Regions from separate parts of the Homo sapiens genome. Here region 2 is linked to region 1. The links come from fine-mapping of genetic effects on gene expression. A gene starts in region 1. The other region holds a variant in brackets. All regions are shown on one strand. Distances are between the middles of the regions.

Region 1 (12,145 bases):
TAGTGTTAGGTAAGGGTCAACTTCATTCTTTTGCATGTGGATACCCAATTTTCCCAAAACCATTTGTTGAAAAGATTGTCCTTTCCCCCAGTGAATGGTCTTGGCGCCCTTGTTGAAAATCATTCAGCCGTATATGGAAAGGTTTTATTTTTATGGGCTCCCTATTCTGTACAATTGGTCATATGTCTGTCTTTATTTTTTTTGGAGACAGAGTTTCACTCTTGTTGCTCAGGCTGGAGTGTAATGGCTCAATCTCGGCTCACTGCAATCTCCACCTCCCGGGTTCAAGCGATTCTCCTGCCTCAGCCTCCCAAGTAGCTGTAATTTCAGGCATGGGCCACCATGCCCGGCTAATTTTGTATTTTTAGTAGAGACGGGGTTTCTCCATGTTAGTTAGGCTGGTCTTGAACTCCTGCCTCAGCCTCCCAAAGTGCTGGGATTACAGACGTGAGCCACCACGCCCGGCCTATATGTCTGTCTTTATGCTAGAATCACACTGTTTTGATTACTGTAGCTTTGTAGTAAGTTTTGAAATCAGGAAGTATGAGTCCTCCACCTTTGTTTCTTTTTTTTAAGATTGTTTTGGTTATTTGGGTCCCTTGAGACTCCATATGGACTTAATTTAAGAGTGGACTTTTCTATTCCCTCAAAAGAAAATCAAGATTTTTGACATGGGAGAAACATGTAAAGTGACTAAGGTTAAGTTAAAACCCTGTAATTCTAGCTGGGCGCGGTGGCTCACACCCGTAATCCCTGCACTTTGGGAGGCTGAGGCACGTGGATCACGAGGTCAGGAGTGTAAAACCAGCCTGGCCAAGATGGTGAAACCCCGTCTCTACTAAAAATATAAAAATTAGCCAGGCATTGTGGCAGGTGCCTGTAATTCCAGCTACTCAGGAGGCTGAGGCAGAGAACTGCTTGAACCCACAAGGCAGAGGTTACAGTGAGCCTGGGCAACAGAGCAAGACTCCATCTCAAAAAAAAATAATAATAATAAATAAATAAAATTTAAAAACCCTATAATTCTAAATTTGAATATGAAACATTAGTATGAACTCCTGATGCATTTCGTATTTAAAAAAAATTACAGCCAGGTGCGGTAGCTCACGCCTGTAATTCCAGCACTTTGGGAGGCCAAGGCAGGCAGATGACAAGGTCAGGACAGGAGATCGAGACCATCCTGGCCAACATGGTGAAACCCCGTCTCTACTAAAATACAAAAAAATTAGCAGGGTGTGGTGGCGCGTGCCTGTAGTCCCAGCTACTCAGCAGGCTGAGGCAGGGGAATTGCTTGAACCTGGGAGGCAGAGGTTGCAGTGAGCCGAGATCGCGCCACTGCACTCCAGCCTGGCGAATGAGCAAGACTCCATCTCAAAAAAAAAAATTACCAGCTAGGCTGGGCACAATGGCTCATGCCTGTAATTCCAACACTTTGGGAAGCTGAGGCAAGAGGAGTGCTAGAGCCCAGGAGTACAAGATGAGCCTGGGCAACATAGTGAGACCTCTTCTCTACTAAAAAATAAAAAATTAGCTGAGCATGGTGGTGTGTGCCTGTAGTCCCAGCTACTGGGGGACCTGAGGAGGGAGAATCACTTGAGCCTAGGAGTTCGAGCCTGCAATGGGCTATGATCACACCACCACTGCAATCCAGCCTGGATGACAGAGCAAGACTCCCATTTTTTAAAAAATTACTGGCTGGGCATGGTGGCTCACGCCTGTAATTCCAACACTTTGGGAGGCCGAGGCGGGCAGGTCACTTGAGGTCAGGAGTTGGAGACCAGCCTGACCAACATGGAGAAACCCTGTCTTTACTAACAATACAAAATTAGCCGGGCGTGGTAGCGCATGCCTGTAATCCCAGCAACTCGGGAGGCTGAGGCAGGAGAATCACTTGAACCCGGGAGGCGGAGGTTGCAGTGAGCCAAGATCATGCCATTGCACTCCAGCCTGGGCAACAAGAGTGAAACTCTGTCTCAAAAAAAAAAAAAAAAAAAAAAAGTACTAACTATTCACCGAAAACATCTACAATGACTGACTCAGTAGCAATAAGTATCCGAAGTACTCAAGCTGTAGTCTTTAAATATCATTTCCTACTAAGAGAAATCAGGACTCCTTGGAAAGCTGTCTGATTCCAGATCTGGGGCAGAAAATTTACTAGATGAGTCTAGAAATATCTTTTCAGGCCAGGCGCTGTGGCTCATGCCTGTAATCCCAGCACTGTGGGAGGCCAAGGCAGGTGGATCACCTGAGGTCAGGAGTTCGAGACCAACCTGACCAATATGGAAACCCCATCTCTACTAAAAATACAAAAATTAGCTGGGCGTGGTGGCACACTCCCATAATCCCAGCTACTTGGGAGGCTGAGGCAGGAGAATTGCTTGCACCCGGGAGGCAGAGGTTGCAGTGAGCCGAGATTGCACCATTGCACTCCAGCCTGGGCAGTAAGAGCGAAACTCCATCTCAAAAAAAAAAAAGGAAAAAGAAAAGAAATATCTTTTCATACCAAACAGCAAAGAAGCTATCACAGGCTACTGTAATTGCTTTTTTAAAATTATTTTTTTAATAGACATAGGGATCTTGCCATGTTGACCAGGCTGGTCTTAAACTCCTGGCCTCAATCAGTCTTCCCCATTCAGCCTTCCAAAGTGCTGGGATTACAGGTATGAGCCACCAAGACTCATATATTGGAATTGTGTCAAAAGGACTGAAGAACAACCAACTTGAAGAAGTTCTCCCTAACCAAAGACGAATAATTTGAATTTCAATAACTATACTTGATTAAAACACAGCTAATATATTTAAATCCATGCATTCATTAAGATTTTAAAAAACTCAGCCGGGTTTGGTAGTTCATGCCTGTAATCCTAACACTTTGGGAGGCTGAGACAGAAGGATCGCCTGAGCTCAGAGGTTCGAGACCAGCCTTGGCAACATAGCAAGATCTTGTGTCTACTAAAAATTAAAAAAAAGAAATTAGCTGAGTGTGGTGGTGCACGCTGTTAGTCCTAGCTACTTGGGAGGCTAAGGTGGGAGGATTGCTTGAGCCCAGGAGTTTGAGGCTGCAGTGAGCAACGAGTCATGCCACAGCATTCCAGCATGGCGACAGAGTGAGACCCTGCCTCAAAAAATTGTTTTCTTTTTAATTAGCTGTGTGTGGTGGTGAGTGCTTATAGTCCCAGCTACCTGGGAGGCCGAGGTAAGAGGATCCCAACTGATAGGGGCGTTGGTGGGAGAAAAAGTAGGTTTACTGATTTATTCTGAAAGCCAGCAAGACTGAGAGGACGGTGTACTAGCGTTCTAAAGTACCATTTTAAGTCAGTACAATCTTAGGCTCTTTCTATGTTAAGGGCAGGGAAGAGAAGGAGGGTGTGGTCAAGAAGTACCCCATGGCAGACATCTGGGCAGCAGCGAGGGTCTGAGGAGGTTGGGAACTTCTTTGTCCTTGGTCCAGTCACAATGCTCCTATAAATCTTTAAGAAAACATAGTTGTTTACATACTTCTTTAACCCCAGACTAAGTTTTAAAAACTACATGATTGCTGTTTTTATATATTACTCAGTGCTCTAAAGCTTATGGCAGCAAAAAATTAGAAGTCCAAATGCCCATGGCTGGGCACGGTAGCTCACGCCTGTAATAGCACTTTAGGAGGCCGAGACGGGCAGATCACCTGAGGTCAGGAGTTAGAGACCACCCTGGCCAACATGGTGAAACCCTGTCTCTACTAAAAGTACAAAATTAGTCAGATGCAGTGGTTCATGCCTGTAATCCCAACATTTTCAGAGGCTGAGGCAGGTGGATCACCTAAGGTCAGGAGTTTGAGACCAGCCTGGCCAACATGGTGAAACCCCGTCTCTACTAAAAATACAAAAAGTTAGCCAGGCATGGTGGCAGGCACCTGTAATCCCAGCTACTCAGGTGGCTGAGGCAGGAGAATCACTTGAACCTGGGAGGCAGAGGTTGCTGTGAGCCGAGATTGTGCCATTGCACACAACAAGAGCGAAACTCTGTCTCAAAAGAAAAAAAAAATACAAAATTAGCCGGGCATGGTGATGCATACCTGTAATCCTAGCTACTCAGGAGGCTAAGGCAGGAGAATCACTTGAACCTGGGAGGCAGAGGTTGCAGTGAGCCGAGATGGTGCTATTGCACTCCAGCCTGGGCCACAAGAGAGGAACTCCATCTCAAAAAAATAAAAATAAAAATGCCTATCTTCAGGATGAATAAACAAACTGTGGTATATTTACACAACAAAATAGTATACAGCAGTGAAAAAGTGAATTAACTGTGAAACATGAATCATAGTAACAGGTTGAGTGAAAAAAGCAAGTAACAAAGGACAACAAATCATATGATGCCCTCTTCATAAAAGTTCAAAACTGGCTGGGTGCGGTGGCTCACACCTGTAATCTCAGCACTTTGGGAGGCAGAGGCTGGCGAATCACCTGAGGTCAGGAGTTCGAGACCAGCCTGGCCAACATGGTGAAACCCCGTCTCTACTAAAAAAATACAAAAATTAGCTGGGCGTGGTGGTTGGCCCCTTTAATCCCAGCTACTCAGGAGGCTGAGGCAGGAGAATCGCTTGAACCTAGGAGGCAGAGGTTGCAGTAAGCAGAATGCCACTGCATTCCAGCCTGCGCGACAGAGTGAGACTTTGTCTCAAAAAAAAAAAAAAAAAAGTTCAAAACTAAGGAAAACCAAAAGATATATTGTGTAGGCATGCAGATATAACTTTTTTTTTCTTTAAAATACAGAATTCTGGGCCAGGTGTGGTGGCTCATGCCTGTAATCCCACTTTGGGAGGCTGAGGTGGGAGGATCGCTTGAGCCCAGGAGTTTGAGACCAGCCTGGGCAACACAGTGAGACCCATCTCTATTTACAATAAATTAATTAATTAATTAATTTAAAAAATACAGAATTCTGGCCCAGCGTGGTGGCTCACGCCTGTAATCCCAGCACTTTGTGAGGCCAAGCGGGGAGGAAAGTTGAGCTCAGGAGTTCAAGACTAGCCTGGACAACAAGGTTAAACCACTTCTTTACAAAAAATACAAAAACTTAGCCGGGCATGGTGGTGTGCTCCCGTAGTCCCAGCTATGCAAGAGGCTGAAGTGGGAGGATTGCTTGAGCCCAGGAGGTAGAGGCTGCAGTGAGCAGAGATTGTGCCACTGCACTCCAGCCTGGGCGACAGAGACAGACCGTGTCTCAAAAAATAAATAAATAAATAAATACAATACAATACAATACAATACAATACAATACAATACAATACAATACAGAATTCTGGATGGTGGTGGCCCCTTGAGTTTTGCAATGGGTACATGGGTGTTTATCGTATTAATTTAAAAGTTATAAATATACATGAATTTTAAGAAGAGGATCCATGCAAGGTTCAATGATAATTGTATATCATTAACCAAAGATTTTAATTAATCCATTCTGTCACCTGAAGTCGGCCTCCCCCGCCCCCTGCCAAAAGTAAACACTTTTCTAATCAGGGCCAGCCACTGGAGAAACTGAAATGAGTGGGCGGGGTGCTAACTCTATTTTCACTTTTCTCTTCCTGTTTCTTCAGAGCCTGGGAAACAAGTCAGAATTTCCAATCTTTTCCAATTCCCACATGATTTCCTAATTTAAGACGAATTCAGAGAAAATAAAAAAGTCTTTCTCCATCTGGAGAAGACTCCGCCCCCTGCAGTGGAGCATCCTCCTTTGGGGATGAGGCCTGGGGTGGGGGTGCGTCAGCCCCAGCCTCCACACGGACGCGCCTTGGGCTTGGTCTTGGGGGAGCTACCTGCACTGTGGGGTCACATGACAGAATTAGTGGTCAGCCCTAGCTGGAGGTCCAGGGCAAACACAGGCGGGGGCAGGGGGGTGGGGGGTCGTGAGCCTGCTGATTCAAGTGTCCCTGTGGGTCCCGCACCTTCTGAGACACAAGCGCCAGGCTTCAGAGACGAGGCTCCGGGATTTACCCCTGGGGGCCTCCTGCTCCCACAGCCGATGAGAGCCGGCAGTTTGGCTGTATCGTAAGCTGGCGCTTTAGCTGGAGAGGGACGAGCCCTCGGCCAGCTCGCCAGCGGGAGGGCCTCAGTCGTCCCATCCGGGCTGTAGGCTCCGCAAAGCTCTTGATGCACTGTCAGGCTGGGAGGTCCGGCCGCTCCCATTCCCCCACAGCCGCATCTAGATTGGGGTGGGTAGGACATTTTAACGTGCTTCTGAGACAGCCACCACCGAAAGGCACCTTTAGCGGTTAGGAAACCCGCGCGGAGTTCAACCACCCGGCCTCTGCGGAGCAGAAGGCCCGGTCGGGCTTTTCCCTGCGCGGGGCGGGCGGCCGCAGCCCAGTAGCCCTGGCTTTGCTCCAGACCCGGCCCAGAGTGACATCACCAAACTCCGCCGATCGGCGGGAGGGGGCCCTGAAATCCCCTAAAAACAAAGTGAGTAATCGGCGGACCCACCCTCCAGGCGGGGCCGGGACCCGGGAGCTAGCCGAGCCACCGGGCACGCCAGCCTCTTCGTCCTCGGCGAGGCGCGCACTTGGCCCCGACCCCCGGCAGCGGCTGTGCGTGCAGCCTCTTCGTCCTCCGCGCGGCGTGCACTTGCTCCCGGCCCCTGCGCCGGGCGGCGGCGGGGCAGCGCGCAGGCGCGGCCGGATTCCGGGCAGTGACGCGACGGCGGGCCGCGCGGCGCATTTCCGCCTCTGGCGAATGGCTCGTCTGTAGTGCACGCCGCGGGCCCAGCTGCGACCCCGGCCCCGCCCCCGGGACCCCGGCCATGGACGGTGAGGTCGCCCTCTGACCCCGCGGGGTGGCATCGCCGGGGCCGCCGCGGCTGTGGCGGGAGCCCCCGCGCCGCTTTCCGCCCCTTCCTGCGCCGACGGGCGCTGCGCAGGGAGCGGTCGGCCTGCCGGATGGTGGCGCGGGGCGGGGCAGGCGGGGAGGGGTCTGACTCAGTTTCCCCTCTGGGTGGAGGGGGTGGCCCTTGACTCAGCATCCTCCCTGGGTGGGGGAGCAGAGGGAACCTTGACTCAGTTTCCCTCCACACCGTCCATGGGGGCAGCTCTGGCTTCGTTTCCCTATTAGGGGAGAACGCATCTGATTCAGTTTCCTCTCTGGAGGGAGGTGGGGCGTGCCCTCCCTCAATTTTCCTTAAGAAAGTACAACAGGCCCTGATTCAGCTTCCCTCTGGAGAAGAAGGATTCCTTACCCCGTTTTCCCTCAAGAAGCAGGTGTTTCTGGTTCCTTTCCTCCACCCCTTAGTTTCACCGCAGGTTCTAGGGAGCAGGTCCTGACTCAGTTCCCCTGGGAGGGAGCCTGGCTTCTCCTCTCCGTGGAGAGCAGATTCCTCCTTGTGAGAATGGGCATTGGGTGTGTGCTGACCCTGATCTCCCTCCCCTTTCAGAACTGTTCCCCCTCATCTTCCCGGCAGGTAAGTGGCCCCCGCGGCGGTCGGGGAGGTGCTCCCTGGGGTAGGGCAGTGGGGGCAGCCGCCTAATGGGGCTGCGGTGTCCCCTGGCAGAGCCAGCCCAGGCCTCTGGCCCCTATGTGGAGATCATTGAGCAGCCCAAGCAGCGGGGCATGCGCTTCCGCTACAAGTGCGAGGGGCGCTCCGCGGGCAGCATCCCAGGCGAGAGGAGCACAGATACCACCAAGACCCACCCCACCATCAAGGTCAGCACTGCGCCAGGGTGTGCGGGGAAGGGACTGTGGAACCCCAGCCCTCTGTGTTTGGGAGTCAGGTTTGGATGTCTGGGCCTCTGTACTTTGGACAGATCAATGGCTACACAGGACCAGGGACAGTGCGCATCTCCCTGGTCACCAAGGACCCTCCTCACCGGCCTCACCCCCACGAGCTTGTAGGAAAGGACTGCCGGGATGGCTTCTATGAGGCTGAGCTCTGCCCGGACCGCTGCATCCACAGGTGAGGTCCCTGCAGGCTAGGAGGCCCAGCATGAGGGGACAGGAGGCGGGCTATGAAGTAGCCGCTACAGTGTTACTCCTTTCTGGACCCAGGGCAGAATTCCTCACTCCTTGCCCTGACTCAGCTCTGCAAGTAAACTGCCTTTGTCTTGAAATTATCTATTTGTACGTTTACTCTAGCAGATGAGTTCCAGGGGATACGGATGGGTCCCTAATCACTTCTGAATTCCTGACCCCTGTAGCTGGAAGGACAAGTCCCTCAGAGTCACGTCTCTTGTTTGAGGAAGAAAACCATTGAACCAGCACTCTCCCCTGGAGTTGACATTGCAGTTGACAGAGACAGGCTGTAAAAAAATATACAGGCCGGGCATAGTGGCTCATGCTTATAATCCTAGCACTTCGGGAGGCCAAGGCAGGAAGATCTCTTGAGCCTAGGAATTCAAGACTAGCCAAGGCAACATAGTGAGACCCCATGTCTACAAAAAATAAGAAATTAGCTGGGTATGGTGGCATGCGCCTATAGTCCCAGGGAGGCTGAGGTGGGAGGATCGCCTGAGCCCAGGAGGTCACTGCTGCGGCAAGCTATGATTGCACCACTGCACTTGGGTGGCAGGGCGATACCTTGTCTTTTTTTTTTTTTTTTTTTTTTTAAGAAAGAGTCTTGCTCTGTCCCCAGACTGGAGTGCAGTGGCGCGATCTCAGCTCACTGCAACCTCCACCTTCCGGGTTCATGCCATTCTCCTGCCTCAGCTTCCCGAATAGCTGGGACTACAGGTGCCTGCCACCACGCCTGGCTAATTTTTTGTATTTTTTAGTAGAGACAGGGTTTCACCGTGTTAGCCAGGATGGTCTCAATCTCCTGACCTTGTGATCTGCCTGTCTTGGCCTCCCAAAGTGCTGGGATTACAGGCTTGAGCCACCGCACCCGGCCCGACACTGTGTCTCTTAAAAATAAATAAATACACAGATAAATAAACAAGGTGCTGTCAGAGTAACAGTTTCAGTCCTGAAAATAAAACGAGGTCATAGGATAGAAGGATAACCTGGGGTGGGGGAGTTAGGGGAGCTGGTGTGTGATGACTTTAGATTGGGAGGTCAGGGAAGGCCTCCCTCAGCTAAGACTTGAATGGTGAGAAGGAGGAGAGAAGTAGGAAAAGAACATTCCAAGCCGACCAAACAAGTGCAAAGGCCTTGAGGTGGGAATGAGTGTCCTGTGTTTAGAGAGTGGAAAAGGAGCCCCGGTGGCTGTAAGCAGGGAGCCCACAGGGAGGCTGGCAGGGGCAGGGGCACGGAGGTGCTTGTCAGCTGAGTGAAGGGACAGGGTTCGTTGCAGCACAGTAGGAAGCCACTGGAGAGGGTTAGGCATGGAGCGATGATCTAGGGGTGGGCAGAGTAGGAAGGAGCAGGCTGGGCAAGGCAGGAAGGTCTGGGCTCTGTGAGAGACAGTGGGACAGACGACTGGGGGCGCTCAGTTTCCAGAACCTGGGAATCCAGTGTGTGAAGAAGCGGGACCTGGAGCAGGCTATCAGTCAGCGCATCCAGACCAACAACAACCCCTTCCAAGGTGAGGGCAAACCTGCCTGCCACACCCGCACCCTCTGTCACCCTCCCCAGCCCGCCTTTCCTGCATCTCCCTCACTGGCCAAGACACAGTAAAGCTGGAATCTTGGTGCCCATTCAGTACTCTCCCACTTTACCACTGGGAAACTGAGTCCCAGGAGGGGACATGACATTCAGGCCACAGTGGAGTCAGTGCTGGGTTCTGCCTCCTCTAGGACTTGTGTTTCACACACGCACCAGCGGCCCTCCCAGCGCAGAGCTCCCTGCCCCCACTGATAGCACCTATATCCCCACTTCCCCTGCTCTCCTGATCGCCTGTTTTCTTGGCAGTTCCTATAGAAGAGCAGCGTGGGGACTACGACCTGAATGCTGTGCGGCTCTGCTTCCAGGTGACAGTGCGGGACCCATCAGGCAGGCCCCTCCGCCTGCCGCCTGTCCTTTCTCATCCCATCTTTGACAATCGTGAGTAGCGAGGGAGACGCAGGAAGGGGAGAGGGTGGGCCTGAATAGGAGGAAGGGGGTTGGGGTGAGTGTGGCCTGCAAGAGGCGCTCTGGCTTCATTCAATCATCTTGCGTATTTGTCTACTCTTCTCTGCCCAGCTCTTTGTTGGCTGGGGAGAGAGGGCAAAGAAGACCCAGAGCTGTCCTTGAGGTGTAGCTCTGGCCTGGCAGGAAGTCTAGCAGAGAGTCTGATGGGAGATGGGCATTTTCAGTATTGTGTGATGAGAAGGTGGTGTGCCCACAACTGCGATAATGACTCTAGGAAATGAACTCCCAGGAACAAGATAGTGTTCGAGAATGATGATTCAGTGATGGAAGCCCACAGATGAATTGGGCTGACTGATCAGCTGCAGTCTTTAGTTAAGTAACCAGCAGGATGAATGGAAATAAAACGAATCTGGAGCCCCAAGGATGGGAAACCAGGATAAACTGGGGGTCAGGAGGGAAGGGCTCATTGCCAAGGTGGGTATGGACTGGCCTTAAAGATTGCTTTGGTCAGGTGGAGAAAGAGTGTGATCAGATTGGCACCCACTGGACTATAAGCTCCGGGAGAGCAGAGAGGTTTGGGTTTTGTGTGTGGTCGTATTCTTGCTTAGATCAGTGTTGAGTGCACAGTAGGCAAATACTTGTTGAATCGGTTGGGGTGAGGAGCTAATAAGAAGGTCTGACTTTGGCTACAAAGGTGTAGGTGGCAAGCTCTGGGCAACCTTGACTCTGGGCTGGGCAGGGAAGTTGCATCTCCTGCAGGCCACCCTGGGGACCTCTCGTGGCTCAGGTCATCCTCCCTTGTTTTCACTGCCTCAGGTGCCCCCAACACTGCCGAGCTCAAGATCTGCCGAGTGAACCGAAACTCTGGCAGCTGCCTCGGTGGGGATGAGATCTTCCTACTGTGTGACAAGGTGCAGAAAGGTATACATCAGGAGGCAGGGGTGGGCTCTTGGGAGCAAGGGGTGAAGCTGAGCAGAGAAGTGGAGTGTCAGGTAACTGGCTTTGGATACTTCCTCCTGTGCCTCGGGGGCCTCAGGTGGGCCGAAGGGTGATGTATCAGAAGACAAGCATCAGAAGTTGAGGGGGAGACCATGGAGGGTTAGACACACTGACCCACACTGCCACCGCATCTCCTGCAGAGGACATTGAGGTGTATTTCACGGGACCAGGCTGGGAGGCCCGAGGCTCCTTTTCGCAAGCTGATGTGCACCGACAAGTGGCCATTGTGTTCCGGACCCCTCCCTACGCAGACCCCAGCCTGCAGGCTCCTGTGCGTGTCTCCATGCAGCTGCGGCGGCCTTCCGACCGGGAGCTCAGTGAGCCCATGGAATTCCAGTACCTGCCAGATACAGGTACACAGCTGGGGTGGCAGCATCAGGGCAGCTGGGCTCTGTGCCGTGAGAGAGAGGCCAAGACTGCATGTCTGGGGCTGTGGTTGAGGGCCAGAAGCTGGAGTCAGAGCTTGGGATCCAAGAAACTGGAATCCATTTCTTGCCTCATTTAATAATAATGATACCTCAGACATTGAGCTAGTACTACACATCTGCCCCTATTCCAGGCACTTCACTGGATTACCTGATTTTAATCTCATGACCCTTTTGAAGTAGGAGATAGTGTCCAACTTGCCTGGGTTCACGTGGCTAGTAAGTAGCAGAGTCTAGCAGAGTCAGCGTTGGAACCCAGGCCATCTGGCTTCAGGATCCTTTTGCCACACTGGTTGTCTTGTCACTACCATACAGCCCAGCCACATTTTGGTCGAGGTTTGAGTGTCCACTTGGTACCAGGGCCTGTGCCAGGTATTGTGAATACAAAAAATGAGTAAGACATGCTCCCTGCCCTTCAGAGTCTCAGTCACTTGAGGAAGACAAATGTGCAAAACAGATCCTTAAGTCACGGAATGACATGTGAAATGGAGGTGTGCGCAGAGAAGCACGGGGGCACAGTGGCCTCCGGGGAGCTGGAGACAGCTGCATGGAGAAGGTGGCATTGAAGCTGGAGAAAGACACAGAAGTGTGTTCTCCAGGCAGGTGGCCCAGCACCTGGAAGGGAAGGGGTGTTGGCAACTGCACGGCCTATTCAGGGCCACCTTCGTGGTTTGAGCTGATGTTGGGCAGTGAGCAGGCTCAGAGATTGGAGGGCCTGGTTAAGCTGAAGGCCTCTAAGCAGAGAGGTGACAGGAGCAG
Region 2 (12,145 bases), 93 kb before region 1:
GATGTGAGGAGCGCCTCTGCCCGGCCGTGACCCTGTCTGGGAGGTGAGGAGCGTCTCTGCCCGGCCGCCCCGTCTGAGAAGTGAGGAGCCCCTCCCCCCAGCAGCCGCCCCGTCTGAGAAGTGAGGAGCCCCTCCGCCCGGCAGCCACCCGATCTGGGAAGTGAGGAGCGTCTCCGCCCGGCAGCCGCCCCGTCCGGGAGGGAGGTGGGGGGTCAGCCCCCGCCCGGCCAGCCGCCCCGTCCGGGAGGTGGGGGCGCCTCTGCCCGGCCACCCCTTCTGGGAAGTGAGGAGCCCCTCTGCCCGGCCACCACCCCGTCTGGAAGGTGTACCCAACAGCTCACTGAGAACGGGCCATGATGACAATGGCGGTTTTGTGGAATAGAAAAGGGGGAAAGGTGGGGAAAAGATTGAGAAATCGGATGGTTTCTGTGTCTGTGTAGAAAGAAGTAGACATGGGAGACTTTTCATTTTGTTCTGTACTAAGAAAAATTCTTCTGCCTTGGGATCCTGTTGATCTATGACCTTACCCCCAACCCTGTGCTCTCTGAAACATGTGCTGTGTCCACTCAGGGTTAAATGGATTAAGGGCGGTGCAAGATGTGCTTTGTTAAACAGATGGTCGAAGGCAGCATGCTCGTTAAGAGTCATCACCACTCCCTAATCTCAAGTACCCAGGGACACAAACACTGCGGAAGGCCACAGGGTCCTCTGCCTAGGAAAACCAGAGACCTTTGTTCACTTGTTTATCTGCTGACCTTCCCTCCACTATTGTCCTATGACCCTGCCAAATCCCCTCTGCGAGAAACACCCAAGAATGATCAATAAAAAAAAAAAAGAAAAGAAAAAAGAAATTTCCTATAAATGGAGTGATAAAAAAAAAAAAGTCAGAAAATCATGTCTTGGCCTCTGAAAGATATCAACAAATGATATTTTTCAGTTGACTATGATTGTTGATTTGGAGGTCAACTTCTTATAACATTGAGACAATATATCAAGGCTATGAGAATTCTATCTGATACTTCTGTAGTATGATTTGCTACTAGAATTATGAAAATTCATTCTTCCTAATAAATAGATTTTAGGGGAAAATACATGCTCCTATAGCTCAGGAAATTCCAAAGGATTAGAAGTTCTATGCCAGAAAATGGTACAGAATTTCTTATTATATCCCAACATCACAGCTTTAGCCAGCATCTTACTTAATAGGGAAATACTAAAAGCATTTTTCACTTGGCTCAGGAACAACACAAAGATGCTCACCATCTCTGCTACTATTCAACATTGTCTAGAGGTATTAGCCATTGCAATTCAACATGATAAATCAGTTCAAAGCATAAGATTGGTAAAGAGGAAGTAAAATTATCTCTATTTGCCAACAATGCTGGAAAAACTCAAATCAAAAATAAAATTAACTAAAAAATTCAGTAAAGTGACAGCATACAAAGCTAACATACAAAAATCAATAACTTTCATACAAACAAACAATAATCAGAGGGCATAATGATAAAATTCGTTTATATAGTATTGAAGAAGATTGAATACTTAGAAATAAAAGTATCAGGAAATGTGCAAAACTTATATGAGGAAATTTTAAAATACTCCTGAAAGTCACAAAGATAGACTTACATAAACGGGTAGAACTCAACATTATAAAGATGTTGGCTTTTCTTAAGTTACTTTATAAATTTAATGCAATCCCAATAAAAGTACCAATAAGCTTTTATATGGCATTATGTAATTGATAACTAATATTTACATAGAAAAAAATGCAAGAATACCCAGAAAAATACCAAAAAAAAAAGAATAACTATGGTGAAGACTAGCTCTGTCAGACATTAATACAAAATATATCCACTGAATTTCTGACTGCTTAAAACAAATAGGTCAGATGCAGTGGCTGACGCCTGTAATCCCAGCACTTTGGGAGGCTGAGGTGGGAGGATCACTTGAGGTCAAGAGGTTGCCTGAGACCAGCCCAGGCAACAAAGCCAGATCCTGTCTCTACAAAAAATTAAAAAGTTATTCAGGAATGGTGGCACATGTCAGTAGTCCTAGCTACTTGGGAGGCAGAGGCATGAGGATTGCTTGAGCCCAGAAGTTCAAAGTTGCAGTGAGTTAAAATGACGCTACTGCATTTCAGCCTGGCCAACAGAGTAAGACTTCATGTTAAAAAAATAAAATCCACTAGGCACAGTGGCACATACCTGTAGTCCCAGCACTTTGGGAGGCTGAGGTGGGCAGATCACTTGAGGCCAGGAGTTGGTGACCAGCCTGGGCAATACAGTGAAATACTTTCTCTACAAAAAGTACAAAAATCAGCTGAGCGTAGTGGTTTCTGCCTGTGGTCCCAGCTACTCAGGAGGCTGAAGTGGGAGGATCCCTTGAGCCTAGGAGGCAGAGGTTGCAGTGAGCCAAGATTACACCACTGCACTCTAGCCTGGGTGACAGAGGGAAACCCTGTCTCAAAAAAAAAAAAAAATCCACAGACAATAAAATAAGAGAATGATAGCTTGACTATATTTTTTAAATTGCATGGCAAAAATCACCATAAACAAACTAAAAAGAAAACAGAAAACCTCTTAGAACTAATTGAGTTCAGCAAAGTTGCAGATGAAGAGTAACATAAAAATCACTCACATTTTTATATACTAACAATGAACATATGGAAACCAAAATGTAAAACACAAAACAATGTACAATCATTCCAAAGAAAATAAAACGCTCAGGTATAAGCCTAACAAAATATGTGTAGGATATATATGCTGAAAATTGAAAATTATAAAGTGCTAATGAAAGAAAAGATTTAAATAAATGGAGAGGCATATTGTGTTCCTGTATTTGAAGATGTAACATAGCAATTTTCAATTCTCCCTAAATTGATCTGTAGGTTTTTTGTTTTGTTTTAGAGTCAGGGTCTCACTCTGTCACCCAGGCTGGAGTGCAGTGGTGCAATCTCAGCTCACTGCAACCTCGGCCTCCCAGGCTCAAGTGATCCTCCCACCTCAGCCTTCCAAGTAGCTGGGCCACAGGCATGCAGCACAATGCCTGGCTAATTTTTGTATTTTCAGTAGATACAGGATTTTGCCATGTTGTCCAGGCTGGACTCAAACTCCTGAGCTCAAGTGATCCACCCACTTTGGCCTCCCAAAGTGCTAGGATTACAGGTATGAGCCATGGCGCCTGGCCGAGCTTGGCAGTTTTTTATAAAGCTAAACATGCAACCACCATACAACCAACCAATTACACTCTTGGGCATTTATCCCAGAGAAATGAAAACATATTAACAAAAAACCCACACATGAATGCTCATAGCATCCTTGGTCATAATAGCTAAAAACTGGAAACAAATCAGATGTCCTTCAATGGGTGAATGGTTAACAAATTTTGGTACATCTGCACCATGGAATACTACTCAGCAATAAAAAAGGAACAAACTACTGATACACATGACAACCTGAATGAATCTCCAGGGGATTATGTTGAGTGAAAAAAAGGTAACTCTACAATATTACAAACTGTATGATTCCATTTATAGTCCATTCTCAAAATGACAAAAATCGTAGACGTGGAGAACAGATTAGTGATTGCCAGAGGTTAAGGAGTGGGTGTGAGTGAGAGGGAAGTGATCATGGAAATGATCAGTATCTTGACTGTATCAATACCAATATCCTAGTTATGATATCATACCATAGTCTTACAAGATGTTATTGTTGAGGGAAACAGGTTTAAGGGTAAAGAGATCTGTATTAGTACTTACAACTACATGTGAATAAAAAGACAACTGATGAAATGGGAGAAAATATTTACAACAGACCAAGGGCTAAAGAACTCTTAAAACTTAAGGAAAAAAAAACAATGATCATCTCAACTGATGCAGAAAAAGTATTTGATAAACTCCAACCCCCTTTCATGATAAAAAATTTTTACTAATTAGAAATAGAAGAGAGCTTCTTCAACATGATAAAAGGCACTTATTAAAAAAATCTCGGCCGGGCGCCATGGCTCACGCCTGTAATCCCAGCACTTTGGGAGGCTGAGTCAGGCGGATCATGAGGTCAGGAGATCGAGACCATCTTGGCTAACACGGTGAAACCCCGTCTCTACTAAAAAACACAAACAATTAGCCAGGCGTGGTGGCGGGCGCCTGTAGTTCCAGCTACTTGGGAGGCTGAGGCAGGAGAATGGCGTGAACCCGGGAGGCAGAGCTTGCAGTGAGCCGAGATGGAGCCACTGCACTCCAGACTGGGCAACAGAGCGAGACTCTGTCTCAAAAAAAAAAAAAAAAAAACTCATACTCGGTGGTGAAAGACTGAGAACTTTTTGCCTAAGATCAGGAATAAGACAAGGATGTCTTTTTTTTTTCTTTCTGTCGCCTGGGCAACAGAGCAACATCCTGTCTCAAAAAATAAAATTAAATTAAAAACTCACTGCAGCCTGGATCTCCCTGGGCTCAAATGATCCTCCTACCTCAGACTCTCAAGTAGCTGGAACTACAGGCACAGGCACACACCACCATGCCTGGCTGATTTTTTTTTTTTATTTTTAATAGAAATGAGGTCTTCTGTCCAGGCGCAATGGCTCATGCCTGTAATCCCAGCACTTTGGGAGGCCGAGGCGGGTGGATCACAAGGTCAGGAGATAGAGACCATCCTGGCTAATACGGTGAAACCTTGTCTCTACTAAAAATACCAAAAAAATAGCCGGGTGTGGTGCCCGTGAACCCGGGAGACAGAGCTTGCAGTGAGCCAAGATCACGCCACTGCACTCCAGCCTGGGTGACAGAGTGAGACTCCATCTCCAAAAAAAAAAAAAAAAAAAGACAAAAAAGAAATGAGGCCTCACCATGTTACCCAGGCTGGTCTAGAACTCCTGGGCTCAAGCAATCCTCCCACCTTGGCCTCCCAAAGTGCTGGGATTACAGGCATGAACCACCGTGCCCAGTGGATGTCCACTTTTTTGTTTTTGTTTTTGTTTGTTTGTTTTTGAGACGGAGTGTCGCTCTGTCGCCCAGGCTGCAGTGCAGTGGCGCTATCTCGGCTTACTGCAAGCCGCCTCCCGGATTCCCACCATTCTCCTGCCTCAGCCTCCCGAGTAGCTGGGACTACAGGAGCCCGCCACCACACCTGGATAATTTTTTGTATTTTTAGTAAAGACGGGGTTTCACCGTGTTAGCCACGATGGTCTCGATCTCCTGACCTCGTGATCCACCTGCCTCGGCCTCCCAAAGTGCTGGGATTACAGGG[G/A]TGAGCCACCGTGTCCGGCCTGGATGTCCACTTTTAACACTTTTACTCAACACTGTCCTGGAAGTTCTGGCCAGAGTAATTAGGTAAGGAAAATAAATAAAAGGCATATAGATCAGAAAGGAAGAAGTAAGAATATCTCTTAAAAGATGACGTGATCTTTTATGAAAAAGTCCTAAAGAATCCACAAAAAACTAGTAGAGTTAATAAATGAACTCGGCAAAGTTTTCGGATATAAGATCAATAGGCAAAAATGAATTGTATCGCTATAATATATGCTAGCAATGAACAATTCCAAAAGGAAATTACAAAAACAATTACATTTATAATAGCAGCAAAAAGAATAAAATACTTGGGAATAAATCTAATTGAGGAAATACAAGAGTTGTATACCAAAAATTAAAAAACATGCTAAAAGAAATAAAGAAGACATAAATAATGGAAAGACATTCATGTACATGGATTGAAAGACTTAGTATTGTTAAGATGGCAGTAATCCCCAAAGTAATCTATAAACGCAATGCAATCCCTATGACAGTCCCAATGGTCTTTTATGAAGAAATGGAAATGCTGATCCTAAAATCCACATGGAATTGCAAGGGGTCCTAAATAGCTAAAACAATCTTGAAAAAGAGCACTCCTCTACAGAAACAGGCAGATCTGCTAGGCAGAATATCAGTAAGGATGTAGTTGAATTCAACAGCACTGCCAGTTAACAGAATACAGTTGACATCTAGCCGGGCGCGGTGGCTCACGCCTGTAATCCCAGCACTTTGGGAGGTCGAGGTGGGTGGATCACGAGGTCAGGAGATCGAGACCATCCTGCCTAACATGGTGAAACCCCGTCTCTACTAAAAATACAAAACAAATTAGCCGGGCGTGGTGGCGGGCGCCTGTAGTCCCAGCTACTGGGGAAGCTGAAGCAGGAGAATGGCGTGAACCCGGGAGGCGGATCTTGCAGTGAGCTGAGATTGCGCCACTGCACTCCAGCCTGGGTGGCTGAGCAAGACTCTGTCTCAAAAAAAAAAAAAGAAAAAAAAATTTTAAGAAAGAATACAGTTGACATCTATAGAATAGTTCATCCCACAACAGCAGAATACACATTGTTTTCAAGACCAAATGGAATATTCACCAGATAGACCACATTCTGAGCCATAAAACACACTTTAACAAATTTAAAACAATAGAAACCATGCAATTTCTTCTCTCAGACCACAATGGAATTAAACTAGAAATCAATAACAGAAAGATGGCTGAAAAATCCCCGTACTTGGCCGGGCGCGGTGGCTCACGCCTGTAATCCCAGCACTTTGGGAGGCCGAGGCGGGCGGATCACGAGGTCAGGAGATCGAGACCATCCCGGCTAAAACGGTGAAACCCCGTCTCTACTAAAAATACAAAAAATTAGCCGGGCGTAGTGGCGGGCGCCTGTAGTCCCAGCTACTTGGGAGGCTGAGGCAGGAGAATGGCGTGAACCCGGGAGACGGAGCTTGCAGTGAGCCGAGATCCCGCCACTGCATTCCAGCCTGGGCGACAGAGCGAGACTCCGTCTCAAAAAAAAAAAAAAAAAAAAAAAAAAAAAAAAAAAAATCCCCGTACTTGTAGATTAAGCAACATACTTATAACTAACACATGACTCAAAGAAGAAAACTTAGAGAAATTAAAAAATATTTTGCACTAAAAGAAAATAAAAATATGCTTATCAAAATTTGTGAAATGCAGCAAAAGCAGTGTTTAGAGGATTTTTTTTTTTTTTTTTTTTTTTTTTAGAGATGGGATATCGCTATGTCACCCAGACTGGTCTCTACCAAAAATACAAAAAACTAGCCGGGCGTGGTGGCAGGCGCCTGTAGTCCCAGCTACTCGGGAGGCTGAGGCGGGAGAATGGCGTGAACCTGGGAGGCGGAGCTTGCAGTGAGCTGAGATTGCGCCACTGCACTCCAGCCTGGGCGACAGAGCAAGACTCTGTCTCAAAAAAAAACAAAAAGGCATTAGTTCTATTCCACCCTTATGACCTAATCATCTCCTAAAAACTAAAGAGCCCACCTGTTAATACTATTACATTGGTAATTAGGTTTAACATATGAATTTTGTTAACATTCAGACCATAATAATCAATAATTAATAATCTTCCAAAACAGAAAGCTGCAGGCCTGATGAGTTCACTGGTGAATTCTACCAAACATTTAAGAAAGAAATTATGCCAGTTCTGTGAAATCTCTTCCAGAAGATATAAGCAGAGAAAACACTTCCTAATTCATTCTATGAGGTCAGCATCTAATACTAAAACCAGATAAAGACATTACCAGAACAACTCTACAGATCCATATCTCTCATAACCATAGGTACAGGAATCCTCAACAAAATATTAGCAAATCAAATCCAATGATACATAAAGATAATTATATGCCATGACCAAATGGGGATTTATCCCAGGTATGCAATCAGTTAATGTAATCCATCACGTCTAAAAGAGAAATATCAAATGATAATTCAATACACGCAGAAAAAGCATTTGAAAAAATTCAGCACCCATTTGTGATTTAAAAAAACTCTCAGTAAACTAGGAATAAAGGGGAACTTCCTTAACTTGATTTTTAAAAGGTACAAAAACCGTATAGCTAATATTTTACTTAACAGTGAGAAACTAGAAGCTTTCCTGCTAAGATCAGAAAAAAGGAAAGAAAGTCCTCTCTCCCCACTCCTTTCAATATTACGCTGGAAGTCCTAGCTAATGCTAAGACAAGAAAAAGAAATAGAAGTATACAGATTGGGAAGGAAGAAAGGTGGTAAAGATGGCATGATTGTCTATGTAGAAAATCTGGAAAAATCAGCAACAACAAACCCTTGGGACTAATGAGCAGTTATAGCAACATTGCAGCATGCAAGATTAATATAAAATTATCAATTGCTTTCCTATATACCATCAATGAACAAGTGGAATCTGAAATTAAAAACACAGGCTGGATAGCTGCAAATAAAATAAAATACTTAGGAATTAACCAAAGAAATGAAAGATCTCTACAATGAAAACTATAAAACATTCATGCAAGAAACTGAAGTGAGGCTGGGAATGGTGGCTGAAGCCTGTAATCCCAGCACTTTGGGGGGCCAAGGTAGGTGGATCTCTTGAGTCCAGGAGTTCGAGACCAGCCTGGGCAACGTGGTGAAACTTCAACTCTACAAAAAACACAAAAAAGAAAAACTAGCTGGGCATGGTGGTTCGCACCTGCAGGCCCAACTACTCAGGAGGCTGAGGCAGGAGGATCACTTGAGCCTGAGAAATTAAGGCTTTGGCAAGCCATGATCACACCACTGCACTCTGGCCTGGGTGACAGAGTGAGACCCTATTTCAAAAAAGAAAAGAAAAGAAATTGAAGAGGACACAAAAAATGGAAAGATATTTCATGTTCATGGATAGGAAGAATCAACATTGTTAAAATGTCCAATAGATTTAATGCAATTCCTGTCAAAATACCAATGACATTCTTCACAGAAATAGAAAAAAATCCTAAAAATCCTAAAATATGTATGGAATCACAAAAGACCCAGAATAGCCAAAGCTATCCTAAGCAAAAAGGACAGAACTAGAGGAATCACATTATCTGACTTCAAATTATACTACAGAGCTATAGTAACCAAACGGCATGGCACTGGCATAAAAACAGATACATAAACCAGTGGAACAGAATCAAAAACCTAGAAATAAATTCATACATCTACAGTGAACTCGTTTTTGACAAAGTTTCCAAGAATATATATTGAGGAAAGGACAGTCTCTTCAATAAGTGGTGCTGGGAAAACTGGATATCCATATGCATAAGAATGAAACTAGACCCCTATCTCTTGCCAAAAAAATCAAATCAAAATGAATTAAAAACATTTAAGACTGAAAATTATGAAACTACCAAAAGAAAACACTGGGGAAACTCTCCAGGACATCAAAGTGGGCAAATACTTCTTGAGCAATACCCCACAGGTATAGGCAACCAAAGCAAAAATGTATAAATGGAATTACGTCAAGTTAAACAGCTACTGCACAACAAAAGAAACAATCAACAAAGTGAAGGGACAACCCATAGAATGGGAGAAAATATTTGCAAACTTCCCATCTGTATTAGTCAGTGTTCTTTCTCTCTCTATATATAAAGGGGAGTTTATTACATGATCACAAGGTCCCACAATAGGCTTTCTGCAAGCTGAGAAGCAAGGAGAGCCAGTCTGAGTCCCAGAACTGAAGAACTTGGAGTCCGATGTGCGAGGGCAAGAAGCATCCAGCACAGGAAAAAGATGAAGGCTGGGAGGCGAAGGCTGTCTCTCCTTTTCACGTTTTTCTGCCTGCTTTATATTCAATGGCAGCTGATTAGATTGTGCCCACCAGATTAAGGGTGGATCTGCTTTCCCCAGCCCACTGACTCAAATGTTAATCTCTTTTGGCAGCACCCTCAGAGACACACCCAGGATCAATATTTTGTATCCTTCAATCAAGCTGACACTCGATATTAACCATCACACCATCTGACAGAATACATAAGGAGTTCAAACCACTCTCTAGAAAAGAAATCTAATAATCTGATTAAAAGTGGGCCAGAGATCTGAATAGATATTTCTCAAAAAAAGACAAACAAATGGCAAACAGGCATATGAAAAGGTGCTCTACATAGTTGATCATCAGAGAAAAGCAAATCAAAACTACAATGAGATATTACCTTACCCCAGTTAAAATGGCTTTTATTCAAAAGACAGGTAATAACACATGCTGGCGAGGATGTGGAGAAAAGGCAACCCTTGTACACTGTTGGTGGGAAGGTAAATTAGTGCAACCACTGTGGAAAACATTGTGGAGGTCCCTCAAAAAACTAAAAACAGAGCTACCATATGATCCAGCAATCCCACTTCTAGATATATACCCGCAGAAAAGGAAATCAGTATTTCAAAGAGATGTCTGCACTTCCATGTTTATTACAGCAGTATTCACAATAGCTAAGACTCCGGAGCAACCTAAATGTCCATTAACAGATAAATGGATTAAGAAAATGTGGTACATATACACAATGGAGTACCATACAGCTATAGAAAAGAACGAGATCCTGTCATTTGCAATAAAATGGATGGAACTGGGGAACATTATGTTAAGTGAAATAAGCCAGGCACAGAAAGACAAACATTACCTGTTCTCACTTATCTGTGGGGGCTAAAAATGAAAACAATTGAACTCATGGAGATAGGAGAAGGATGGTTGCCAGAGACCAGGAAGGGTAGTTGGCGGTGGGGGCTGGTGATGGAAGGGGAGATGGTTGATGGGTACAAAAAAATAGTTAGAAAGAATAAATAAGACCTACTATTTGCTAGCACAACAAGGTAACTATAGCAAAAAATAATTTAATTGTACATTTAAAAACAATTAATAGAGTATAATTGGATTGTTTGAAACATAAAGGTTCAATGCTTGCAGTGATGAATACCCTATTTACCTGAATATGATTATTATGCATTGCATGCCTGTATCAAAACATCTCATGTAACCCATAAATATATACACCTACTATGTACCTAAAAAATAAAAAATATAAAATATAAAAAATGCAGGCTGGGCACAGTGGATCACACCTGTAATCCCAGCACTTTGGGAGGCCAAGGCAGGAGGATTGCTTGAGCCCAGGAGTTTGAGACCAGCCTGGGCAACATGATGAGACCCCATCTCTACCAAAAAAAATTAGCTGGGTATGGGGCATATGCCTGTAGTTCCAGCTACGGGGGAGGCTGAGATGGGAGAATTGCTTGAGCCCAGGAGGCTGAGGATTCAGTGAGCTATGATCACACCACTGCGCTCCAGCCTCAGTGACAGATTGAGATCCTGTCTCAAAACAAACACACACACACAATACGGTATCATTTACATCAGCTCCCTCCAGAATGAAATACTTAAGTACAAATCTAACAAAATATGTACAAGATTTATATATTTTTTAAAAACTATGAAACTCTGATGAAAGAAAACAAAGAAGTACTAAATAAATAATGTTCCACGTTCATGGTTAGGAAGACTCAATATTGTTAAGATATCGGTTCTTCCTAACTTGGTCTATAGATTCAATGCAATCCCAATCAATATTCCAGCAAGTTATTTCTTATATTGACAAACTGATTCTGAAGTTTATATGGAGACATTTAAAACAAACATCACCACCACCAAAGATACCCAGAGTAGCCATCACAATATTAAAGGAGAACAAACTCAGAGGACTAACACCATTCAACTTCAGGACTTACTATATAGCTACAGTAATCAAGACACTGTGGTACTGGCAAAAGAGCGGACAAATCCATCTATGGACTAGAATAAAGAGCCCAGAAACAGACTCACATAAATATAGCCACCTGATCATTAACAAAGGGGCAAAGGCAATACAAATAGAGCAAAGATAGTCTGTGCAACAAATGGTGCTGGGACAACTGGGCATCACATGCAAAAAAAAAAAAGAAAGAAAGAAAAAGAAAAAAAGAATCTAGACACAAACCTTAAACCCTCCACAAAAATTAACTTGAAATGGATCATAGACCTAAATGTAAAATACAAAACTGTAAAACTCATAGAAGATAACATAGGAACAAATCTAGATGACCTTGGGTATGGCAAATACTTTTTAGATATAACACCAAAGGCCTGATCCACAAAAGAAATAATTGATAAGTTGGACTTCATTAAAATTAAAAACCTGCTCTGTAAAATACAATGTCAAGAAAATGAGAAGACAATCCACAGACTGGGAGAAAAATATTTGCAAAAGACATTTCTGAAAAAGTACTGTTATGGAAAATATACAAAGCATGGTGGCTTATGCCCATAATCCAGCACTTTGGGAAGCCAAGGCAGGCAAATCATTTGAGGTCAGGAGTTCGAG

Which allele goes with the higher level. Alleles are on the strand shown, and positions count from the first base shown. SD is a standard deviation of normalised expression in the study named.
For the expression in liver of the gene that starts at base 6,685 in region 1, allele A in region 2 goes with a lower level than allele G (large effect, 0.76 SD a copy in GTEx).

What was found. PIP is the estimated chance that this variant, and not a neighbour inherited with it, causes the effect. A credible set is the group of variants that fine-mapping cannot tell apart.
Region 2: its variant is the best candidate, but not a certain one, in a credible set for the expression of RELA in liver (GTEx, PIP 0.53).

Annotation. Positions count from the first base shown.
Region 1 is chr11:65,657,456-65,669,600 of GRCh38, reverse strand. RELA (RELA proto-oncogene, NF-kB subunit) reads left to right here and starts at 6,685. Exons shown (of 11, transcript NM_021975.4): 1 at 6,685-6,775; 2 at 7,396-7,422; 3 at 7,513-7,664; 4 at 7,766-7,914; 5 at 9,386-9,477; 6 at 9,804-9,935; 7 at 10,779-10,883; 8 at 11,102-11,314. The coding sequence starts at 6,769. It overlaps RELA-DT (RELA divergent transcript), which reads right to left and starts at 6,595. Exons shown (of 4, transcript NR_183625.1): 1 at 6,453-6,595; 2 at 4,058-4,155; 3 at 3,384-3,470. RefSeq lists an enhancer at 6,179-6,378 and silencers at 6,469-6,878, 6,939-6,998.
Region 2 is chr11:65,750,890-65,763,034 of GRCh38, reverse strand. No RefSeq gene overlaps it. Among named protein-coding and RNA genes, the nearest start is that of AP5B1, 24 kb to the left of the region's middle. The variant G/A (reference allele first, on the strand shown) is at 5,244.